Homo sapiens: one gene and its partners. The protein of the gene in region 7 interacts with the protein of the main gene of each other region in a biochemical or structural test. Each region holds a gene or a part of one and is shown on either strand. Other genes may lie near its edges.

Region 1 (2,805 bases), on a different chromosome or scaffold from region 7:
AATCTCGGAAGATGAGAACAATGAGTAGGTTAATAAAGGAATTAATGAGGGTTCTGAACTAAGACTTTAATAGAAAAGACAGAGACAAATGTATGCATTTGTGATAAGTAATATGTCAAAAGATGAACTTGGGTTTCTGAATGAATAGTGGCTTTGTTCACTGAGATAGATAATACACAAGAATGAGCAGGTATGGAGGGAAAAGATGACAAGCTGAGTTTGAATTTACACATAATGAATTTTAAGGCATGGTGAGATATCTGATTGAAAATGACCAGAAGATCTTTGGGAGATCAGGAAAGAGATCCTAGTTCAAGCCACAAAGGAATAAATATTTTACCAGGATTTCTTACTTAGGTATCATTGATGGGCTTTAAGTTCTTAAGTCCCTGAAACTGTACACACATTTTTGTGTGTGTGTGCAGGTGAATATGCAGCATGCCTAACTTATTTTCCCTCCTTCTCTTATTCCCCACCCCATGTTAAATATGACAGCTGTCTTTTGCAAGTATCTTTATTCTTTTATTATTCATTTTATTTTCATATAAATTAACATCCTAGAAAAATTGAAATAGAAACACTAAATACAGTATTGCACATAGCGATCTTTGTTAAATGCCCTATTATTTCATTGGAGAATGGTAATATACACACTGGAGGGACTGAAGGGGACAGGAAGACTACAAAACAATAGAAAAAAAACCACTACTGTTTCTTTGCACTTAAACTACAAACTAAAAAGTAAGAGACCATACTTTACATAAATACAAACAATTATGATTTAGAACATTGGTTTTCTTAAGTTGCTTTCCATAATTGGTTTGCAAGAGCAATAAATTCTCCCCTTTATCCACAACTATAACTTGCAACGAAGATCATTAAAAGTAATGGAAAAAAACACCCAGCTCATACAAAACCATCACAATGCATTACGAGCTGACCCAAGTCATTATATGACTTCAGTAAAAAAAATGACCATTTTCTTTCACAAATACATAGTTATGGAGAGCAACCCAAGAGTTGGGAAAGCACTGATTATAAACGGTTCTTAAATTTTAAAATAGAAAATTTATACTTAGACATGAAACTGATACAAACAATTCACTAGAAATAACATTTTACCCATATGTCTAAATGCTGTGATGTGGAGGACTGGTTGTCAGTAGAAAGGAAAGTGTTTTTGCTGTGACGAGGAATATTCTCACAACAGTGAATTGTAGTTAATGTTTAGCATGTTGAGAATTAGTGCAGATACTGCCTCTTACACATGCTGTTTTGGTCTATCGGTATAATACCATAAACTTTTACAAAAAGAAAAGGTGTCAAATTCTCCACTGGTCTAGTACGTTTGCATTTTTATATGAATATACAGTAAAATTCAACAATTAGTGAACTGTCTAGAAAACAAAAAGATTATGCAAGAGGTCAAGAAGAAACATGAGCAGAATGACGGTAGTTTCCCTCCCACTCTCAGGTCAGCTGAATTTTGTGAAAGTCGTTGCAATGACTCATTTTCATTCTGCTTTTCATTGTTCAAGTTTTCATGCTTATCTTTGCTTTCTGAAAACAAATACACCAGATAAAAGTTTTAGTTAGAAAGAACTTTTAAAAATGGAAAGAATTTAGAGTAGCCTAAAAAAGACCTTTTCATTTGGATCAAATTCTGTGGGACAAGGTTAAAGGTCTACCAGTCCATAAAGGAAAAAAGTATAAGTGGGATCTGTGTTATCTTTGAGCACTTTTATCAAGACAAATCGCCAAATACTTTTGAGAAAAAAAAAAGTTTTAAAAATTTAACTTCTAACCAATATGAGAGGGTGTCAAACTCTCCATTCTCATCCTCAATCCTACATGCAAATACATAAATATGAAAACTGAAGTGGCTGCTTCACTTCATGGTAAATGTACTCTAATTATCTTCTGTACTCATAATAGCAAGATTGAGGTTCACTAATAAGTAACTATTCCTCCACATTCAATACAGTTATAAGACTGAATCATCAGGAGCAGAAGATAAGCTGAACTATCATGTAGTAGTTATCATTAGATAAGATCATTTTGATACAGAGAAACTGAAGGCACCACTGCTTCTAAATGAAGATATAATTCCTAACTTTTTAAAAAAAAACAGGGCTATTTAATCATATCCCAATTTGGGTTATTTTAATGTCTTTTCCCTTTAGACTACATTAGACTAATTCAATTTAGAATGGTCCTATCCTAAGGCCTAACTCAACTTTTCATTTAAAACATTTACTTACACTGTGGTACCAAGTGATAATCCCTCAAAACAGTCAACAAAACATCCTCAGTATCACAAGGAAAAGCCTTGTCATTTTAACCAAGCCCTTCCCTCCCAGGGTGGATAACCTGGCATTTTGTTTTAAAGCGGGGAGTGGGCAAGCAGGAAACTTAAATGAGCTTGTTAAACTCCGTCTCTGGACTGACCACTCTCCGGCAGCCAACTCTGCCGAGCCATCTGTGGATATAAACGGGGTCTGGGCACCCTGGGCAAAGCGTCACACTGCTCTTGGCGCTTCCCACCAACTTTACATCCCAGTGGATCTAATCCAATTAGAATGATCACTCGTGGCTCAAATACAGCCTCTGCCGTGATCTGTGTGTAACAAAGAAAGTGAAAGATGGTCTCCCCACCCTGCCCCTGCCAACATGCACATATCCACATAAATGCACACCCTCAGTAGATTCAGTAGATTTATCTTAATTTTTTTTTTTTTTTTTTTGAGACAAAGTCTCACTCTGTTGCCAGGCTGGAGTGCAGTGTTGCAATCTTGGCTCACTGCA
Region 2 (3,500 bases), on a different chromosome or scaffold from region 7:
TAATTGCTTCCTTTTATTCATATATAAAAATCCCTTAGATCATGAGATATTTTATTAGTAATTTTTTTAAATGCCTGGTCCAGTATTATATTAACTTAGTTGTATTTATTCATGCACATAAGCTTGAATAACCCCTCATTTTTATCACTCATCTGAGTAAAAATACCACTCATAATTAGTGGTATTATATGTTTTGGAATATAATCCAATTCTACATAAAATCAGTATCATTGAATCAAGCTTGGTGAGTAGGCATCACTTAGAAATATTAGCATGTAGGCAGGGCGCAGTGGCTCATGCCTGTAATCCCAGCACTTTAGGAGGCTGAGGCAGGCGGATCACCTGAGGTCAAGAGTTTGAGACCAGCCTGACCAACATGGTGAAACCCCATCTCTACTAAAAACACAAAAATTAACCAGGCATGGTGGCGTACGCCTGTAATCCCAGCTACTCAGGAGCCTGAGGCAGGAGAATCTCTTGAAGCCGGGAGGTGGAGGTTGCAGTGGGCCGAGATTAAGCCACTGCCATCAAGCCTGGGTGACAGACTGAGACTCTGTCTCGAATTAAAAAAAAATTTAAAAAAAGGAAATATAAGCATGTATTATGAAAATCTAAGTACTATAATAAGAGTTTATTGCAAAAAGTAAATATGGAAGTATGGTTAAATAAAGCTTTAATTGGGTTCCTAACTCCCGTTCCTGAATAGAAATTACTATTTCTGAGGGTATAGATAAAGCAGTAGTCAGCAAACTATGGCCCGTGCGTCAAATGCAGCCTGTTGCCTGTTTTTGTAAATAAAGTTTTATTGTAACACAGCTATGCCCATTTATTTGTGTATTGTCTATGGCTGCTTTCATGTTACAGTGGCAGTGTTGAGTACTTGTGAAACCATATGCTCTGCAAAGCCTAAAATATTTATTATGTGGCCCTTTACAGAAAAAGTTTGCCAACCCTGGATTAAAGGATTGGAAATGAGCAAATGCATACATAGCAAGTAGAGTTAGGTAATGAAAAAATGTATCAGTAACATATTTCACATTGGCCTGATTTCTCTAGAGGTGGTTTGAATCAGATATAGGAACAAAATATGTGTGTCTTGGTAGTAGCATTGATAGTTCAACAACAGACTTTCAACTACATGAAATCAATAATTTGTGGTCATTCTCTACTTATTATACTATCTTCATAAAGTTATCTTTTTATTCTAGCATGTACATAAGGCCCAAAGGGAAATGGACTTTTGGTCACTTTTAGAAGGTCCATGGGATGAAAACACCTACATTAGTTAGAAAGACTAAGGAAAAACTTCATGTTAACCTTAAGTTCAAAGACCATTTGATAACATTAATAACAACCTGAGATGCTGCTGGTGCTCCCTCTTTGCTACTTTTATCACATTGGGATGGAAGTTGTGCTATGAAAATGTATATTTAGAGTGTTTCAAGTAGGTATTAAGCATTTAGAGCTTCAGATAGAAAAGGAGGGACATTCTGGAAAATATACCTTTCAGTAGAAAGTGGGTTATGATGTTGCTATGAATTCTAATCTACTTTAGAAGCTGAAGATAGGCACTTTCTCTCTAAATTTGAAGACACAATCTCTATAATTCCTAGGAGTAAGAACTTATTTTTCTAAGCCTAGACTGGGACACTATCATCTTGGAAAAGACAACATATAGTGACCCAGACTTCAACCTTATATATTTTGTTCTGAATTTGTAAAGTTCTCCCTTTTTTTCTTCTTGGTTCTCCATTGATCAGCATGCACTTTCATTTTTCCCATAGGAAATCTTTATTTCACCAATGCCTTTGTTTCTGAAACACTGATAGAAGTTCTGCGGATCAATACTACTTACCGCCGTGTTCTTCTTAAAGTCACAGTGGACATGCCTAGGCATATTGTTGTAGATCCCAAGAACAGATACCTCTTCTGGGCTGACTATGGGCAGAGACCAAAGATTGAGCGTTCTTTCCTTGACTGTACCAATCGAACAGTGCTTGTGTCAGAGGGCATTGTCACACCACGGGGCTTGGCAGTGGACCGAAGTGATGGCTACGTTTATTGGGTTGATGATTCTTTAGATATAATTGCAAGGATTCGTATCAATGGAGAGAACTCTGAAGTGATTCGTTATGGCAGTCGTTACCCAACTCCTTATGGCATCACTGTTTTTGAAAATTCTATCATATGGGTAGATAGGAATTTGAAAAAGATCTTCCAAGCCAGCAAGGAACCAGAGAACACAGAGCCACCCACAGTGATAAGAGACAATATCAACTGGCTAAGAGATGTGACCATCTTTGACAAGCAAGTCCAGCCCCGGTCACCAGCAGAGGTCAACAACAACCCTTGCTTGGAAAACAATGGTGGGTGCTCTCATCTCTGCTTTGCTCTGCCTGGATTGCACACCCCAAAATGTGACTGTGCCTTTGGGACCCTGCAAAGTGATGGCAAGAATTGTGCCATTTCAACAGAAAATTTCCTCATCTTTGCCTTGTCTAATTCCTTGAGAAGCTTACACTTGGACCCTGAAAACCATAGCCCACCTTTCCAAACAATAAATGTGGAAAGAACTGTCATGTCTCTAGACTATGACAGTGTAAGTGATAGAATCTACTTCACACAAAATTTAGCCTCTGGAGTTGGACAGATTTCCTATGCCACCCTGTCTTCAGGGATCCATACTCCAACTGTCATTGCTTCAGGTAAGTGCACTCCAGGTGCTGCTTGTCCTGCAAGTAGACACAATGGGGTCAACACACATGGATGACTGAGTGTTTCTAATGCATATGAGACTCTAATGTCTTTGTGTGTGCTTGTGTGTGTGTCTGCCTGTATGTGTCCAGGTATAGGGACTGCTGATGGCATTGCCTTTGACTGGATTACTAGAAGAATTTATTACAGTGACTACCTCAACCAGATGATTAATTCCATGGCTGAAGATGGGTCTAACCGCACTGTGATAGCCCGCGTTCCAAAACCAAGAGCAATTGTGTTAGATCCCTGCCAAGGGTATGCCATCATCTTCCTTGTTATATTTCTGTCTGCTTATTTCTGGAAAAAATGGGGCCTGAAATTATGTTCATAGATAGCCAATGTGTTATGGGCTTATAAAACTATGGCTACAGATTCAAAAATGAAAGCATATTGAGTGATTTTACGTGGGAAGGAGGGTGCAGCGCATAGCTCCCTTTGATGGCAGAAAGGTTGGCAACATACTAGGAAGTCAACACCCTGACTTACTAGATCTCCTTTGGACAAGTTGTGTAAGTAGAAATGAAGTTTCTTTTGCCATGTTACTGGCAATTTGCAATTAAAGAATATTGTCCTTTTTTTTTTTTTTAAAGGACTATGAGGTTCCCTGTGAATTAATTATTGACTCCTTTTGTATGACTAGGTACCTGTACTGGGCTGACTGGGATACACATGCCAAAATCGAGAGAGCCACATTGGGAGGAAACTTCCGCGTACCCATTGTGAACAGCAGTCTGGTCATGCCC
Region 3 (3,500 bases), on a different chromosome or scaffold from region 7:
TTCCCCCAGGGGGCTTTGTGCCGAGTGAAGACCTTTGCTTTCTGTTATTTCACTTCCCTCTCGGCTTCTCCCGACCACACTGGGCAGGGGCTGGCAGCCTGTGTTCTCGGGCCTGATCGTGACTGCACCTGTCTGGTGGCTCTTTGCAGGGAAGAGAAGGAACGGTGGATCCGTGCCAAGTACGAGCAGAAGCTCTTCCTGGCCCCGCTGCCCTGCACGGAGCTGTCCCTGGGCCAGCACCTGCTGCGGGCCACCGCCGACGAGGACCTGCGGACGGCCATCCTGCTGCTGGCACACGGCTCCCGGGACGAGGTGAACGAGACCTGCGGGGAGGGAGACGGCCGCACGGCGCTGCATCTGGCCTGCCGCAAGGGGAATGTGGTCCTGGCGCAGCTCCTGATCTGGGTAGGTGGTCGGCACGCCTGGCAGAGGACGGGGCCACAGGAGGCACTCTCTGCTTTGTTCTGCTTCCGTGGGCATCTTTCTGGCAGAAGGCTGTTGTTCTCGATCTGCAAGTGGAAACAGTTCCTAATGGGAAACTCTGATTGAAGAGCAGAGGGCCTTACGGAGAGACAGCCGGTCCTCCTTGTACAGTACTTGCTAGAGTTTCTGAAAATTGCAACTTTGTGATTGCCCCTTATCAAGCAGGGTTGGTGCTATCCCTCTTTTTTCATTTCCATCATCTTCTGGAGAGAAGGCGGTGTATTAACGGGATGGCTTGTAGGGTTTCCCCATTTCCAAACCTTTGGTGTTTTTATTCACTTAACACAGAAATACTGGACCCTAAACTTTGAGGTCTGATGTGGCAGGAGTTTGTCAAAGGACTTCTTTCGAACCATTCTGATTAATTTCTACTGGGGAAAAGTATTATTTACATTCCTATTGAAGCATGTGTCACAATGCTTGAAGGAGTGAAAGAGAAGGATAAAGTGGTTGTGCAGAGAGGCCCTGCCTGTGCCACCCAGGAGCTACGTCTGAGAAGCCACGCCCACTTAGGGGCTGCCTGTGGACCCCTGGGGCTTCTGCTGAGGCAGGTTCCCACCAGAGGCAGGCAGAAAGCTGCCGGCAGGGAGGCTCCCCAGATAGGGAAGGCAAGTGTGTGCCCAGAAGTGGAGACAGCACCCAGAGGTGGGACACCCAGCTGGAGGCTCTTCTGTCTCCACCCGCAAGGCAGGATGGGTCAGTCCAGCACAGCAGCACGTTCTACAGCAGCATGGGTAGAGTGCAGCAGGTTTCTGCATGTTTTTGATCTGACTTTTTTGTTTTTTGTTTTTTTGAGACAGAGTCTCGCTCTGTCACCCAGGCTGGAGTGCAGTGGTGCGATCTCAGCTCACTGCAACCTCCGCCTCCCAGGTTCAAGCAATTCTCCTGCCTCAGCCTCCCAGGAAGCTGGGATTACAGGTGCGCACCACCACGCCCAGCTAATTTTTGTATTTTTAGTAGAGACGGGGCTTCACCATGTTGGTCAGTCTGGTCTCGAGCTCCTGACCTCGTGATCCACCCGCCTCGGCCTCCCAAAGTGCTGGGAGTACAGGCATGACCCACCACGCCCAGCCTTGATCTGACTTTTTTGATGGGTGCAGTTGGTGAATGAGTGAGATATAGACACTACACCAAAATCACACAGATACTCCCTTTTGCTCATGAGTCATACATGTGATGTAATGCACATTAAATAAGAGTTGTGTGTAGTGTGCTAGGGCTGCCATAACAAAATACCACAGACAGGGGTGCTTCAACAACAGACATTTATTTTTTCACAGTTCTGGAGGCTGGAAGTACAAGATCAAAGGGCCAGCAGGAATGGTTCCTGGCGAGGCCTCTCTCACGGCTGGTAGACGGCCGCCCTCTCCCTATGTTCTCACAGGGCCTTTCCTCTGCACTCGCTCCTGGTAGCTCTCTCCTTTCCCCCCACCCCCTTCTTTTTGGGACAAAGTCTTGCTCTGTCGTCCAGGCTGGAGTGCAGTGGCACAATCATAGCCCACTGTAACCTCAAACTCCTGGGCTCAAGCAATCCCCCCACCCTAGCCTCCCAAGTAATTGGGACCACAGGCATGCCACCCCCATGAATGGCAGTTTTTAAAAAATTTTGTAGACTTACGTTCTTACCATATTGCCCATGGGTTTTGAACTCCTGCCTTTAAGCAGTCCTCTCACCTCGGCCTCCCAAGGTGTTGAGATTACAGGTATCAGCCTCCCAGCCCAGCCTTTTCCTCTTCTCATATAGATACTAACCCTATTGTGACCTCATTTAAGCTAATACACCACCATAAAGGCTCTGTCTCCAAATACAGTCACATTCTAAAGTACTGGGTGTCAGGACTTAAACATGTGAATTGTTGGTGGGAGCGGGGGACACAGTTATAAATTACAGGCCATCTTTGCTTCTCCAATTGAGCAAAAATTCCTTTGATGGCGCTGGTTCCATGCTGTTGAGTGGCCTCAGACTCCCACACATTGTGAGTTGGCAGAAGTGGAAGTGAATTCACTCTTTTTCATGAGCAAAAAGCTTAAAAACGTTGTGTACTTTAACCTCATATTTTCCCCCTTCTGATCATCACTCTAATAATCAATCACAGATCCTAAGAAAGATTCTATGTGAGGACATACATCCGGGCACTGTTTCTTCCAGTGACAATTTTTTTTTTTTTTTTTTTTGAGACAGAGTCTCACTCTGTCTCCCGGGCTGGAGTGCAGTGGCACGATCTCGGCTCACTGCAACCTCTGCCTCCCGGGTTCAAGCAATTCTCCTGCCTCAGCCTCCTGACACTAGCTGGGATTACAAGCGTACACCACCATGCCCAGATAATTTCTGTATTTTTAGTAGAGACGAGGTTTCACCATGTTGGTCAGTCTGGTCTCAAACTCCTGACCTTGTGATCCGCCCTCCTCGGCCTCCCAAAGTGCTGGGATTCCAGGCATGAGCCACCGTGTCCGGCTCCAGTGACAATTTTTACAAAGTGTGCACAGTTGAGGGGAGAGTTCTGAATTCTGTTCATGTGGTGGAATACTGTATGACTTGCATATGTCATGCTTTTTGAGGGGTGGGGAGACAGGGTCTCACTCTGTTGCCCAGGCTGGAGTGCAGTGGTGTGATGTCGGCCCACGGCAGCCTCTGCCTCCTAGGCTCAAGCGATCCTCCCACCTCAGCCTCCTGCATAGCTGGGACCACAGGCATATGCCACGTGCCCAGCTAATTTTTTTAAAATGTGTTTTTTTCTAGAGACAGGGTCTCCCAGTATTGCTCAGGCTAGTCTTGAACTCCTGGGCTGAAGTGAACCACCGCACCCAGCTTGTGTTGTGCTTCTGAGTAATTTTTAATGATGTAAGAAAATGATCACAGTATAGTAATCAATAAAAAATGAAAAAAATACAAATTATTTGTACAGTCTTATCTCAATTATGTACATATACATGTAGATTCAAAGAAAACTCATTGAAAGGAAATACACTAATTCACAAAGGTTATCTCTAAGTAGTAAGATTATGGGTGATTTTTT
Region 4 (3,500 bases), on a different chromosome or scaffold from region 7:
TGTCATGCTTTATCTCAATCACAAAGCCCAAGGGCAATATAGAACTTATCTCATTTCTAAGAACATCCAAATCAACAGAGGCTACTCACCTATTCAACCTCATTCTTTCATGTAACATGTAATGAGCCCTTCTCATGTGCCAGGCACTGGAGATACAAGAGGAGACAGGCTATGACTCCTGCCCTCAAGAAGAGTAGTGAGGGAAGGCTATACAGGGAGAAGAGATCAGAGCCTTGAGGGATGAACACGAGTTTGCCAAGAGAAGGAGGGAGGGAAGAACCCAGCAGTGCCTGAGGAGCAGCAGGGTCTGGTTGGGGAGAGGCCAGTGAGGTCAGTGTGCCTGGAGCACAGGCCTCTGCAGGCAGGGATGGGGACTGAAACTGAGGAGGTGGGCTGGGGCCAGAAGGTGGAAGGTCTCACATTTGATTGCCTGTCAAAAGCATTTGGGCTTGAGTCTAAAGCAGGAGGTTTTTAAGCAGGCTGATGTTACCAGGCTCAATCTATCTGGGGATAAATAGGATAACTATGGAAGATGAACTGGGGGTGAGAGGGATCAGAGAAACCCTGAGAAGTCTATCACAGGTCTCTAAGTAGGCACGAGGGCCTGAACCAGGGTGATGGCAGAGGTGGTAAAAAGTAGACTTTTGGAAATGCATGTCTGAGGTGAATGAACAGGATCTGGTGGAGACACAGTGAAAGAAGGGGTCAATGTTGGTCTCTCTCAGGAGCCTGCACATGAAGCCACAGCATTAGTCAAGACAGAAAACACAGGAGGTAGTGCAGGCTTGAATGGAAAAGAGAATCAGATCAGTCTGGGCCATACTAAATCTTTACAGGGTCTGGGAAAACCCTCTGAACAAGAGATGTCTTTCAGAAACTGCCATGCAGTCAGCACAGGGCAACTACAAGGGGGATAAACAGTGCCTGCAGGTATCAGCTTCCTCTTCACACAGATGTTCTGACCTGAAGAGTCCTAGGCTGGCTGACTCTACATCCTCAGTGGACAGATTTCCCTGGAAGGTCATGTTGACTAGTCTAGAAGCAAGGGGACACTTTCAACTTAAGATCTTTCATACATCCTAGCTTACCTTGCCTATGACATTCTGCAAGATGTCCTATGTCATCTTGGTGAAAATATTCATAACACGATGTGCCTAGAAGTTCTTGTGGTAAATATGCCAAAATAGCTGTTGCCCTAAAAGGGAATAAAGGAATATTTAAAGAAGAAAAAGCCATTCAGATGATTAATTGCAACTTTGCAATGGATAAACCCTGCTACAGCCTATGAGAGCAAGGTCAAAGCTGCAGGCAAAAGAGCTGGATGGATTTTCAGAGGGCTCACTGTGTGGATCTTTCTCTCTTTTTTTCAGGCATCTGAATTTAATCAAGGCTATAAAAATAGAGGGAAACAGAGCAAAGCCTTTGTAAAGGGACTATTATCACAAGAAATCAAATCTGAGGGGGCTTTAAAAATTGCAACCAGTCGGGCATGGTGGTTCATGCCTGTCATCCCAGCACTTTGGGAGGCCGAGTTGGGCAGATTGTCTGAGCTCAGGAATTCAAGATTAGCTTGGGCAACATGGTGAAACCCTGTCTTTACCAAAAACACAGAACAATGAGCTGGGTATGGTGGCACATGCCTATGGTCACAGCTACCTGGGAGGCTGAGGTGGGAGGACTGCTTGAGCCCGGGAGGTCAAGGCTACAGTAAGCCAAGATCTCGCCACTGCACTAGATCTAGCCTGGGTGACAGACTGAGATCTGTCTTTAAAAAAGGAACCACATTAATTAGATTAAAATGTGGTATAAATCTAAACCTCAGTGCAAGGCTTCTAGTTTTTGCTGCCTCCTTTTTATCAGGACAACCAAATGCCAGAAGCTGCAGCAGCTGAGGCCACAAGACAGCTGAGGCTGTCTCTTTTTCCAGCATGTTGTGGCTGTCTCTAGTAGCCAGAAAAATTATTAGCCTGTGCATATTCTGAGGGAAAGCAGTAGGCAGCAGTAAATTTGGGACACCTGGGTCCTTGGTCCAGGTCTATTACCAATTAATTGTGAATCCTACAGGAGACCAGTCCCCAGGCTGGCCTCTGTTCTTCATCCATAAAATAAGGAGGTTGGATTAGATCAACGCTGTCCAACAAGACTTTCTGTGATGATGGAAATGTTCTATGTCTGTGCCGTTAGCCACATGGGAGGCTACCATGGCCAACGAGTATTTTATTGGACAGCTCAGGACTAAATAATTGCTTCCAAGTCCTAGATTCAAAAGAATTTCAATCACAATAATGGTTCTGGAACATTCCATAGATTCAGACAGCATGCTATCCCTACTGTTTTTCTTTTAGCCATGGACATCAAGGCACCCCACTTAATTGTCTCTATATGCCAAAGAATGACAGAAAAATCTCTGTATTTATGATGATATCCTATTGAATCTCATTTTTTAACAGAGACTCTCATCATTTGTCTCTTTTTTTTTGAAACAGGGTCTCACTCTGTTGCCCAGGCGGAAGTGCAGTGGTGCAATCACAGCTCACTGCAGCCTTGACCTCCCGAGGCTCAGCTGATCCTCCTGCTTCAGCCTCCAGAGTAGATGGGACTACAGGTATGTGTCACCATGCCTGGCTAATTTTTGTATTTTTAGTTGAGACAGGGTTTTGCCACGTTGCCCAGGCTAGTCTCAAACTCCTGGGCTCAAGTGATCCACCCACCTTGGCCTCAAAAAGTGCTGGGATTTGAGGTGTGAGCCACTGCACCCAGCTTTTTCTTTCTTTCTTCATTCTTAGAAAAGCCAGCTGATGGCCCAGTCTTCTCTGCTTTTTAGATCAGGGTTGAAAATCCTCTACCATCATTGCTCAAGGGTAGTATGTAGACTCTTACCTCTGGTCTACAAAAACAAACTTTCCATCTATCGCGTGCCGAGAAACATATTCCATAGATTTCACCCTGATTTCCCCGTTCACTGGTTGTGGAACTACATGAGAATGCAGTCGTCCAATTGCGACGAGGCAGCTGAGGTTACACCCCTCATTGTCTGGTTCGTTGTCTTCATCCAGCCCCATCTTTGTGGGTGGCCAGCTTTTCAAATAGCCTGTGCTGTGGATTGTGCAGAAGCTTTTTCGATCTGCTAGAAAGCAAAGTTCGTGGTTAGTGTCAGCACTAGGTTTGGGCCATGGAGGTGTACACGGCCGATGGTGGGATGGGATGTAGGTAGGGAGTCAAAAAATAAAAAAAAATCAAGGCTTCACTCTCCAGAAGTAAGCATCTAATGAAAGGGGCAGACGGAAAGAGAAACAAACTGTCATCCAGTGTCAGAATGCTTAAGTAGGGCCAGTTATACCATGGACATTCATTACATACACCAAGGAAGGAATATCTAACTCTTCCTAGGGAGAGGAAGGCTCCCCCAAAAAACCAGTAGAGGAGGTGGATCAAGAAGGATGAGCAGTGGCTGAGGGACTAGAATGTATAAAGGCTGATGACGTACACAGGCACAGAGG
Region 5 (3,500 bases), on a different chromosome or scaffold from region 7:
TGCTCAAGGTTCCAACATGCACGCCCTATATAGGTGCCAAGGCCCATACGGGGTGTTCATTTCTGAGAAGGGGAATGTGTCCACTGGGGAACAAGGGTTTTGCATCTGCATCTGGAGGAAGCACCCCATGGGGTCCTTTGGGTGTCCTCAGCTGGTCACACAGGCCAGGCTAGGCTCTACAGGGACCACTGTGAGTGGTGGCCCCAAGCAGGCCTCACTCCAGGGCCCACTATGGTCTCAACTGAAACCACTCCATTTGACCAGCTTTACATGATGGATTCCACAAAGTTCTGTTTGCAAAAAGAGTTCCCGCAGTTCCCTCAAACAAGGTGTGGATACCCATGAGTAAGCTATTTTACACTCTTCTTGCTTTCAACAGCTTCAGCTACTCATTCATCCATCCACCTCTTCCCTACACACCTCCCAGGTGCCTCCTGATGCCTGGCCATGTGCAGGGCTACCCAACCTGCTCCCAGAGCTCGTGCTGAATGGAGCTGTGTGTGTGGTGGACAGTCAGGCCAGTGCCGCCCAGGGTGCTGACAGACTGTGCTGTGAGAGGCGGGGAGACCCCTGACTTTTATTTATTTTTTTTGAGATGGACTCTCGCTCTGTCGCCAGGCTGGAGTACGATGGTGCGATCTCAGGTCACTGCAACCTCTGCCTCCTGGGTTCAAGTGATTCTCCTGCCTCAGCCTTCCAAGTAGCTGGGACTACAGGAATGCACCACCATGCCCAGCTAATTTTTGTATTTTTAGTAGAGACGGGGTTTCACCATGTTGGCCGGATGGTCTTGATCTCTTGACCTTGTGATCCGCCCGCCTCGGCCTCCCAAAGTACCGGGATTACAGGCGTGAGCCACCATGCCCAGCCGACCCCTGACTTTTAAACAGTGAAGACTGACCCCCCAGATTGTTGAGCCAGTGTGTCGCCTGCTGGCTGGCCCATTTTGGTAGCCTGAAGTAATGTGAGTTTCAACTGTTATTTTATTTCATCTTGCCTTTGTTACTTGTTAATGGATGAGGAAAATGAAAAAGTACAAGTATTAGTGCTGGTGGTAACTCAGCCTCATACAGTTAATAAAATACAAAAAAGATGAGAAGCTTGAGGCATACCCAAGTGGCAAATCTTTAACAAGCTACTTACGTAAGAGAACACATTTGAAACACAGTGTTGAAAACTGTCCCTAAATGGAGAGTGAAACAGGGAGTTCTACAAAAACTGTAACGCTACACCTCCCCAGCTACGAGACTCCCTGCCCAGACATGTCAATCTACCACTGAAGTTCTGCAGACTGGATTTCTGCATACATTTCCATGAAAGAACATCTTATTTTATAGTTCGGGGGCCAGCTTGTTCATCTATGTACCTAGGTGCACTGAAGGCCTCGTGGAGGAGTGACAGTCACAGGGCAGCCTTCATCCACAGCCTACCCTGCCTCACCACTGTCTTCTGCTTCATATCCTCATGACCTAGGACCCAGCTGTCATCTCCTGCTGGATGCCCCTGGCTTCAGATCTGATCGGCCGTCCCCAAGCCACTGTAAGAGCACCTGGGGCTGGTCTCTGCCTACAGCTTTGACCTGTCCAAGCCAGGGCTGCGTAATGCAAAAGCCTTGCCCTGCTCGCGCCCCTCCTGCCATCGGGAGTCAGAACGAGGAAACCATCTAGGCCCTGCAACGCCGCTTGCCTCTCAATGGCAGGGGCCCCCACCATCGGAAGAATTCCTCTGTGCCTGGAAGGCCCCTTTCCCTGCCCTGCATGCACTGGCACGCTCCCACAGCTCTCAGGTCTGCCTCAACTATGAGGACTCATCTATGCGTCTGTCTCCCCTAGGGGTCTGCAAGTCCCTCGCGGGTAGGACTGTCTAGATGAACCCCTCAGGCCACAGCTGGGCACAGCTGATGCTCTGGAAAGGCTGCTGGGAGCAGGGTGGGGATCTGGTCCCAGGCTATTACCTCCTTCTCGAGCAGAGAGGTCAGCTCGTGTGTGGAGAGCCGGTCACCCCCATCTTCAGAAGACAGGTGGACGGGGGCGATGGGCACCTGCTTCTCTTCCCGGAGAGGTGTGGTCTCCACCTGATGCCACCGCTGCTCAATCTCCACGTGGACGTTATGCGTTTTGAGGTCGCTCATAGGCAGCCCTGGGCTCCGGTCCACCTCCATGCGCAGGGCTGCATCCTCAGTGCCTGGCCCGTCTGTGGCGTCGAGCATCCCGAAGCGCTTGCGGCGCTCCTCCCGCCTCCGTGCACGCTCCCGCTCCAGCTCCCCAGGCTCCGCCTCAGGGCGCAGGGGCTCGTGGGTGTCAGCAGGCCCCACGCCGCCCACCCGCTCCTGAGCCAGGGCCTGCTGGATGGGACGGAACTCAGCCCAGTCAAAGGTCTTGGAGCGGCCCTCTCGCCTCCGCTCCCGTGCGCGGCTCCTCTTCTGCTCAGGGTCCGGCTCCCCCAGCTCTGCCTCTTGCTTCTCAGTAGGCCTCGGGCAGGTCTCAAAAGAGCAGCTGCTCTTGTTTTTTTCCTCTGGCAACGAGCTGTGGGGCAGGAGGATGGACATAGCCTGTCAGGGGCGGCTCTGGTGTGGCCTGCCAGGCAGAAGCTGGCAATGCTGAGCCACAACCCAGCCCCTGTGAGCACCACATCCTTTTTCTATCCTAATCCCAGCTTCCTAAGTGCAGGGAGGACAGGAATACTCTGCCTTTACCCCACATCCCTTCCCAAACTGGTTCTGAGTGGGGGAGGGGGAGGGGGACGGGGAGGGGAAGGGGAAAGGAAGGGAAAAGAGCCTCAGAAAGCTGAGGTTTCCCACATAATGACACTGGGGGGGTCCCTTGACTGAAGAGGCTGTGAGGGGCTCACTGTGGTGGTCCCGTTGCCAGGGTATGGAGCCAGGGGAGTCCCAGGACTCCCACAGCCTCAGAGGCAGGACGGGCCAGCCCTGCCTTGCTCAGGGCCAAGAACTACATTAGGCTGCACCTGGGCACAGCCACCGTACCTGCCAGGTGAGGCCTGGGCCCTGTGCACCCCTGGACTGGACAGTGGTGACAGAATGAGGGAAAACTAGCACTTTCTAGAAGGGCTTACCTTTTAATAAGCAGGTAACGTGATCAGATCTATGTTTTGTTTTTTTTTTTTTTGAGATGGAGTTTCACTCTTGTTACCCAGGCTGGAGTGCAATGGCGCGATCTCGGCTCACCACAACCTCTGCCTGCTGGGTTCAAGCGATTCTCCTGCCTCAGCCTCCCAAGTAGCTGGGATTACCGGCATGCGCTACCATGCCTGGCTAATTTTGTATTTTTAGTAGAAACGGGGTTTCTCCATGTTGGCCAGGCTGGTCTCAAACTCCTGACCTCAGGTGATCCGCCTGCCTCCCAAAGTGCTGGGATTACAGGCGTGAGCTACTGTGCCCAGCCTGAATCTATGTTTTAAAAGCCCAATCCAGCTGCTGGCATGACAGATGGATCAGTATGAAAGACTGGGACCTCCTAAGGGTGAGGGAAACAGGAGGC
Region 6 (2,253 bases), on a different chromosome or scaffold from region 7:
CAAATGGGCAAAATAGAGGCATCATGTGCCATTGGTTCTGTCATACTGGCCTTTGACTGTGTTGGGGAAGTAATCACACAAAAAGTGCCCATAAAACAAAGAAGGCAGCAAGTGAAACTAGAAAAAGGTTGGAACTGTATGAATCAGATTTGAAAGGAGTTATTTCTAAAATTCTTTCTTAGATGACTTGAGGAGGGAAGTGCAGGGGCATCTGGAGTTGGCCCCTCCACTGCCGTCCTGAAGTAAAGTAGATTCAGACTGTCCGTAAAGATTATCATGAGAGTTGGTGACTGCACCCCAAATCAGAGCCAGTTCCCTAAGAAGAATATGGTGCAAAACAAAACAAACCACACATTAAATACATGACACCGAAATCACTTTGATGAGAAAACAGAACACACAGGTATTTTAAAATATAAATAAATACATTTAGCCATTTTTATTCAAGAACCCCAGAGAACTGCTTTAAAAGCAATTGCTTCTTTGAACCCCTTTCTAAATTCTTTCATAAATACTTACTAGTTTGATTGTCACTTAATGCAGCACCTCAGTGTTTGCTGGTGGTGGTGATGGAATTTCACTTAGTTGTCTCTCCATAAACTATATCCTATTCCACTAAATAATGTTTCCCTGAGGAAACCCAGGCAGCTTACAAAATACTGTTATAAACACTCACAACAAAACCTGCAGAGTATTTTATTTAAGAAAAACAAGGAATGTAGTGTTATGACATAGGGGGAAAAAACTATGCAAAACAGTCACATGGAAAGAAAGTATTTTAATTTTTAAAATCCAAGTTTGCTTAATTTCTTGTGAACTGTTCAACACTGTTTTAAATATCCTGAATAACTGTGCCAACAAAATTCATCCCCAGTGTTTCCACAGGAGACATTAAAATTAAAGACCAAATTATACTATTTTTTTCCTTTAACCAAAGTATTCTTTTTCTCAGTCCTTTTTGTGCAAAAATATTACAAGAGCAATTCAAATGGAAATGCTGAAATGACATGCCAACATTTCAGGGCACATTTAAAACACTCAGAATAATTCTTGAAATTATTATATTCTAAAATGTTACTAGCAATCACTTTTAGATTAGTTCTGTACATCTACTCACACGGATGCAATTTTCCTAGACCTCTGAAAAATAAACAGGCTCATTGGTCTCTTTTGGTGTCCACACAATAGGCAAGATAGGTTTACAATAGTGTTTAAATCAAACTAGGCATCTACAATCTCTTGACTCCACCACATTCAAAACAAAAATCAAAGTTCATTTGGCTATCTTGAAATCACTCCCATAAACCAACTACGGTTCACTGGACCTAAACATTTCTCAGAAATGTGTCATTTTATATAATTTCACCTAAGTAAGTGATGATTTGGGGATCCTTTAGAAATGGTTAACGCCTAAGAATAAACTTTATCAAAATGAGTAATTGCAATAAAGTGCTTGTTACATTTCAAAATGATGCTTTTAGACTGTGGTATGTTGTTTTAAAAGTGTGTGCTATTCCTTCCGTAAAGGATCCCCAGGCATGAGAGTTGGGTCTTCTCACCTGTCTCATAAAGCAGCAGCACTATCTTTTGGTAGGCTGACAATAGGCACATTACCCATGCGGATGAGGCTATACTAGTGCTATGGCAAAAGGGGAAGTAAATTAGAAAAGTGGGAGGCATGTAGAGGGTTCCTATTATAGTTATATACAAATATATTAAATATACTATAAAAATAGTCGATTCTATTCCTTTGCAATTACTTCAGAAGCTCCTTTTAGAAGAAAGCTCACCCAATCCAAACTTAAAAGGTTCTCTTTCTCCAAACACTTAAAATGGCAAGTGCCTTTGTGCTGTTTCTTCTCTACCATTCAAAAATTCCAATCAGCTTGTCCTGGCTAGAAAGACTCACTCAGCAACATTAATATCCAGTGTTTACCCCCTTCCAACAGGGACTCCTGTGGGACTAAGGGCCACAGGTAATTGGAAAGGTTATAGACTTGAATGCGTTTTACACAAATATTCATCAACAAACTTTCAATTACCAAAGAAACAGAAAGAAAAAAGCAGAAATACTAAAGTAAAATGCTATTTGCATTCCACTTTTAAAAAGTTTGCCTCAATGTAGTGGAAACATCTGAAAACATGTTGAGTAATATCCAGTTTAAAAGAATTTTCACTTGTCTGCGTAGAGTACTATTTTAAGGATCCCTTTCTAAGGCTTCCTGAACAAGGGTTCTTCTCCCTTCAACAGTG
Region 7 (3,500 bases):
AAGGGCACTTGGAGATCAAGAGCAGCAGGAATAAGGCACATGGTGGTAAGCAATGAAGAAAACCTTCAATTTACTGCCAAGTGAAAATCACTTCAAACTCAAGTTCTTTGGGGAAAGACAGGCAAGGAACAATCCCTGAGGTAACATACCGTCAAGTTTCCTAAATAAGAGCATGAAATCATTTATCTCAAAATGTAAATATTATAAGGTTAACCTTCAATGGATGCACAGAATCAGGATTTGACTTTGTTTGGCCTAATTCCAAACTTACATTGCCTCTAAGACAATGCGTATCTAGTAAAACTGACAAAGAAAAATGAACCATTAGGTACCTCCCAGTGAGCTGGCTAAGAATTTATATATGCTTATTGTAAACCTTATTGCAGGAGTTTACTTTTACCAAGTATATATATTTCTTAAAATAAAAAACTAGGCCGGGTGCAGTGGTTCACACCTATAATCCCACCACTTTGCGAGGCCAGAGCTCAGGAGTTAGAGACCAGCCTGGACAACATGGCAAAACGTCATCTCTATAAAAATTAAATTAATTAACTAGGTATGGTGGTGCTTGCCTGTAGTCCCAGATGCTCATGAGGCTGAGGCAGGAGTATTACTTGGGCACAAGAGTTAGAGGCTGCAGTGAGCCACGATAGCACCACTGCACTCCAGCCTGGGAAACAGATCAAGACTCTGTCTCAAAAACAAACCAAAACTTGTCATATTCTAGGAAGCCAAGCAAATAAAACGAATGAACAAAAAAACTAGTCTAAAAAACTTTAGGCCAGGAGCAGTGGCTCACACCTGTAATTCCAGCACTTTGGGAGACCGAGGCAGGAGGATCACAAGGTCAGGCCTTTGAGACCAGCCTGGCCAACATGGCGAAACCCCGTATCCACTAAAAACACAAAAAATTAGCCGGGCGTGGTGGCGGGTGCCTGTAGTTCCAGCTACTCGGGAGGCTGAAGCAGAAGAATCGCTTGAACCCGAGAGGCGGAGGTTGCAGTGAGTTGAGATCGTGCCACTGCACTGCAGCCTGGGCAACAGAGCGAGATTCCATCTCATAAAAAAAAAAAAAAAGAAACCCGCCGAGCGCGGTGGCTCACGCCTGTAATCCCAACACTTTGGGAAGCAGAGGCAGGCGGATCACAAGATCAGATCGAGACCATCCTGGCTAACAGAGTGAAACCCCATCTCTACTAAAAATACAAAAAGTTAGCTGGGTGTGGTGGCACGCACCTGTAGTCCCAGCTACTCAGGAGGCTGAGGCAGGGGAATCACTTGAACCCGGGAGGCAGAGGCTGCAGTGAGCCAAGATTGCGGCACTGCACTCCTAGATGACAGAATAAGACTCCGTCTCAAAAATAAAAATAAAAATTTAAAGCCTTGAGGAAATGCTCTTTAACTCGACTGAGTGGCAATTACTTGGGTATACACATTCATCAAAATTTATCAAACTGGCGGTTTGTGGTGGCTCATGCCTATAATCCCAGGGCTTTGTGAGGTTGAGACGAGAGAATCACTTAAGGCCAGGAGTTCAAGACCAGTCTGAGCACATAGTGAGACCCCTCTCTCTACAAAAAAAAAAATTACAAAATAAAAATGTAGCCAGGCGTGGTGGTGCACACCTGCAGTCCCAGCTACTCGGGAGGCTAAAGCAGAGAATTCTTGGGCCTAGGAGGTCGAGGATGTAGTAAGCCATGATTCCGACACTGCACTTCAGCTGGGTGACAGAACAAGGCCCTATGTCTAAAAAAAATAAGAACAAAAAAATTATCAAACTATCATTTAAAGTATGTGCATTTTATTGTATGCAAATTAAACCTCCATGAAGGTAATTAAACCTCAGGTGATTCCAATTTGGGGAACTGGATTCCAAGTTTGGGAACAGTGGAGTCTAGGAACCACTGTTCTTAAGTACCAGGAACCAAGTAGTAAGCCCTGTTTTATTCCAAGAAATCTTAGGGTGCTACTCCCACTACCCTCCCACCACCCCCGAAAAAAGGTACTACAAACTGTAACCTGAATAGTGAAAGTTGAAGATAGCTGGACTCAGTGGCTCATGCCCGTACTTGCAGCACTTTGGGAGTCTGAGGTGGGAGGACTGTTTGAGCCCAGGAGTCTGAGACCCAACCTGGGCAAGACAGCAAGACTCCATCTCTACAAAATGTAAAAATATTAGCTGGGCGCAGTGGCACATACACCTGTAGTCCCAGCTACTAGGGAGGACGAGGCGTAAGGATACCTTGACACCAAAAGTTGGAGGCCACCATGAGCTATGACTGTGCCACTGCACTCCAGCCTAGATGACAAAACAAGACCTTATCTCTCCAAAAAAAAGCCAGGCGCAGTGGCTCACACCCGTAATCCCAGTACTTTGGGAAGCCAAGGCAGGTGGATCACAAGGTCAGGAGTTCAAGACCAGCCTGGCCAACAAAGTAAAACCCCGTCTCTAGTAAAACACACACACACACACACACACACAAAATTAGCCGGGCATGGTGGCACGCACCTGTAGTCCCAGCTACTTGGGAGGCTGAGGCAGGAGAATCGCTTGCACCCTGGTAGGCAGAGATTGCAGTGAGCCGAGATTGTGCCACTACACTCCAGCTTAGACAACAGAGCAAGACTCCGTCTCAAAAAAAAAAAAAAAAAAAAAAAAAAAGGCCAGAAGGCCAGGCACGGTGGCTCACGGCTGTAATCCTAGCACTTTGGGAGGCCAAGGCAGGCAGATTGCCTGAGCTCAGGAGATGGAGACCAGCCTGGGCAACATGGTTAAACCCCGTCTCTACTAAAATACAAAAAAAAAAAAAAATTAGCCAGGCGTGGCAGCATGCACCTGTAGTCCCAGTTTACCTGGGAGGCTAAGGCAGGAGAACCGCATGAACCCGGGAGGCAGAGTTTGCAGTGAGCCGAGATCACGCCACTGCACTCCAGCCTGGGCGACAGAGCGAGACTCTTGTCTCCAAAAAAAAAAATAATAAAAAAAGTAGGCCAGGCGCGGTGGCTCACACCTATAATCCCAACACTTTGGGAGGCGGAGGCAGGCAGATCACCTGAGGTCAGGAGATCGGGACCATCCTGGCTAACACGGTAAAACCCTGTCTCTACTAAAAATACAAAAAAAAAAAACACCTAGCCGGGCGTGGTGGCGGGCACCTGTAGTCTCAGCTACTCAGGAGGCTGAGGAAGGAGAACTGCTTGAACTCGGAGGGCGGAGGTTGCAGTGAGCCGAGATCGCGCCACTGCACTCCAGCCTGGGTGACAGAGCGAGACTGTGTCTCAAAAAAAAAAAAAAAAAAAAAAAAATTAGCTGGGCATGGTGACATGCCTGTAAACCCCAACTAATGGGGAGGCTGAGGCAGGAGAATCACTTGAATCCAGGAGGTGGAGGTTGCAGTGAGCTGGGATCACGCCATTGCACTCCAGCCTGGGCAACAAGAGCAAAACTCCATCTCAAAAAATAAATAAATAAAATAAGTTAGTTGAAGGGCTACATGTCT

Evidence for each region.
Region 1: the proteins of RHOA (region 7) and FMN2 form a complex in vitro, tested with the Homo sapiens proteins (one study listed by BioGRID).
Region 2: the proteins of RHOA (region 7) and LRP2 form a complex in vitro, tested with the Homo sapiens proteins (one study listed by BioGRID).
Region 3: the proteins of RHOA (region 7) and AGAP1 form a complex in vitro, tested with the Homo sapiens proteins (one study listed by BioGRID).
Region 4: the proteins of RHOA (region 7) and BMAL1 form a complex in vitro, tested with the Homo sapiens proteins (one study listed by BioGRID).
Region 5: the proteins of RHOA (region 7) and MPRIP form a complex in vitro, tested with the Homo sapiens proteins (one study listed by BioGRID).
Region 6: the proteins of RHOA (region 7) and CLOCK form a complex in vitro, tested with the Homo sapiens proteins (one study listed by BioGRID).

The regions. Positions count from the first base shown.
Region 1 is NC_000001.11:240,472,883-240,475,687, reverse strand, and holds the end of FMN2 (formin-2), read right to left. Parts: intron 1,561-2,805; coding exon 1,534-1,560; 3' UTR 501-1,533; downstream 1-500. UniProt on the Homo sapiens protein: Actin-binding protein that is involved in actin cytoskeleton assembly and reorganization. Acts as an actin nucleation factor and promotes assembly of actin filaments together with SPIRE1 and SPIRE2.
Region 2 is NC_000002.12:169,205,535-169,209,034, reverse strand, and holds part of LRP2 (low-density lipoprotein receptor-related protein 2 precursor), read left to right. Parts: intron 1-1,784; coding exon 1,785-2,705; intron 2,706-2,846; coding exon 2,847-3,012; intron 3,013-3,397; coding exon 3,398-3,500. UniProt on the Homo sapiens protein: Multiligand endocytic receptor. Acts together with CUBN to mediate endocytosis of high-density lipoproteins. Mediates receptor-mediated uptake of polybasic drugs such as aprotinin, aminoglycosides and polymyxin B.
Region 3 is NC_000002.12:236,120,043-236,123,542, forward strand, and holds part of AGAP1 (arf-GAP with GTPase, ANK repeat and PH domain-containing protein 1), read left to right. Parts: intron 1-149; coding exon 150-405; intron 406-3,500. UniProt on the Homo sapiens protein: GTPase-activating protein for ARF1 and, to a lesser extent, ARF5. Directly and specifically regulates the adapter protein 3 (AP-3)-dependent trafficking of proteins in the endosomal-lysosomal system.
Region 4 is NC_000011.10:13,371,790-13,375,289, reverse strand, and holds part of BMAL1 (basic helix-loop-helix ARNT-like protein 1), read right to left. Parts: intron 3,128-3,500; coding exon 2,881-3,127; intron 1,196-2,880; coding exon 1,089-1,195; intron 1-1,088. UniProt on the Homo sapiens protein: Transcriptional activator which forms a core component of the circadian clock.
Region 5 is NC_000017.11:17,157,457-17,160,956, reverse strand, and holds part of MPRIP (myosin phosphatase Rho-interacting protein), read right to left. Parts: intron 2,526-3,500; coding exon 1,955-2,525; intron 1-1,954. UniProt on the Homo sapiens protein: Targets myosin phosphatase to the actin cytoskeleton. Required for the regulation of the actin cytoskeleton by RhoA and ROCK1.
Region 6 is NC_000004.12:55,429,657-55,431,909, forward strand, and holds part of CLOCK (circadian locomoter output cycles protein kaput), read right to left. Parts: 3' UTR 1-2,253. UniProt on the Homo sapiens protein: Transcriptional activator which forms a core component of the circadian clock.
Region 7 is NC_000003.12:49,401,977-49,405,476, forward strand, and holds part of RHOA (transforming protein RhoA isoform 1 precursor), read right to left. Parts: intron 1-3,500. UniProt on the Homo sapiens protein: Small GTPase which cycles between an active GTP-bound and an inactive GDP-bound state.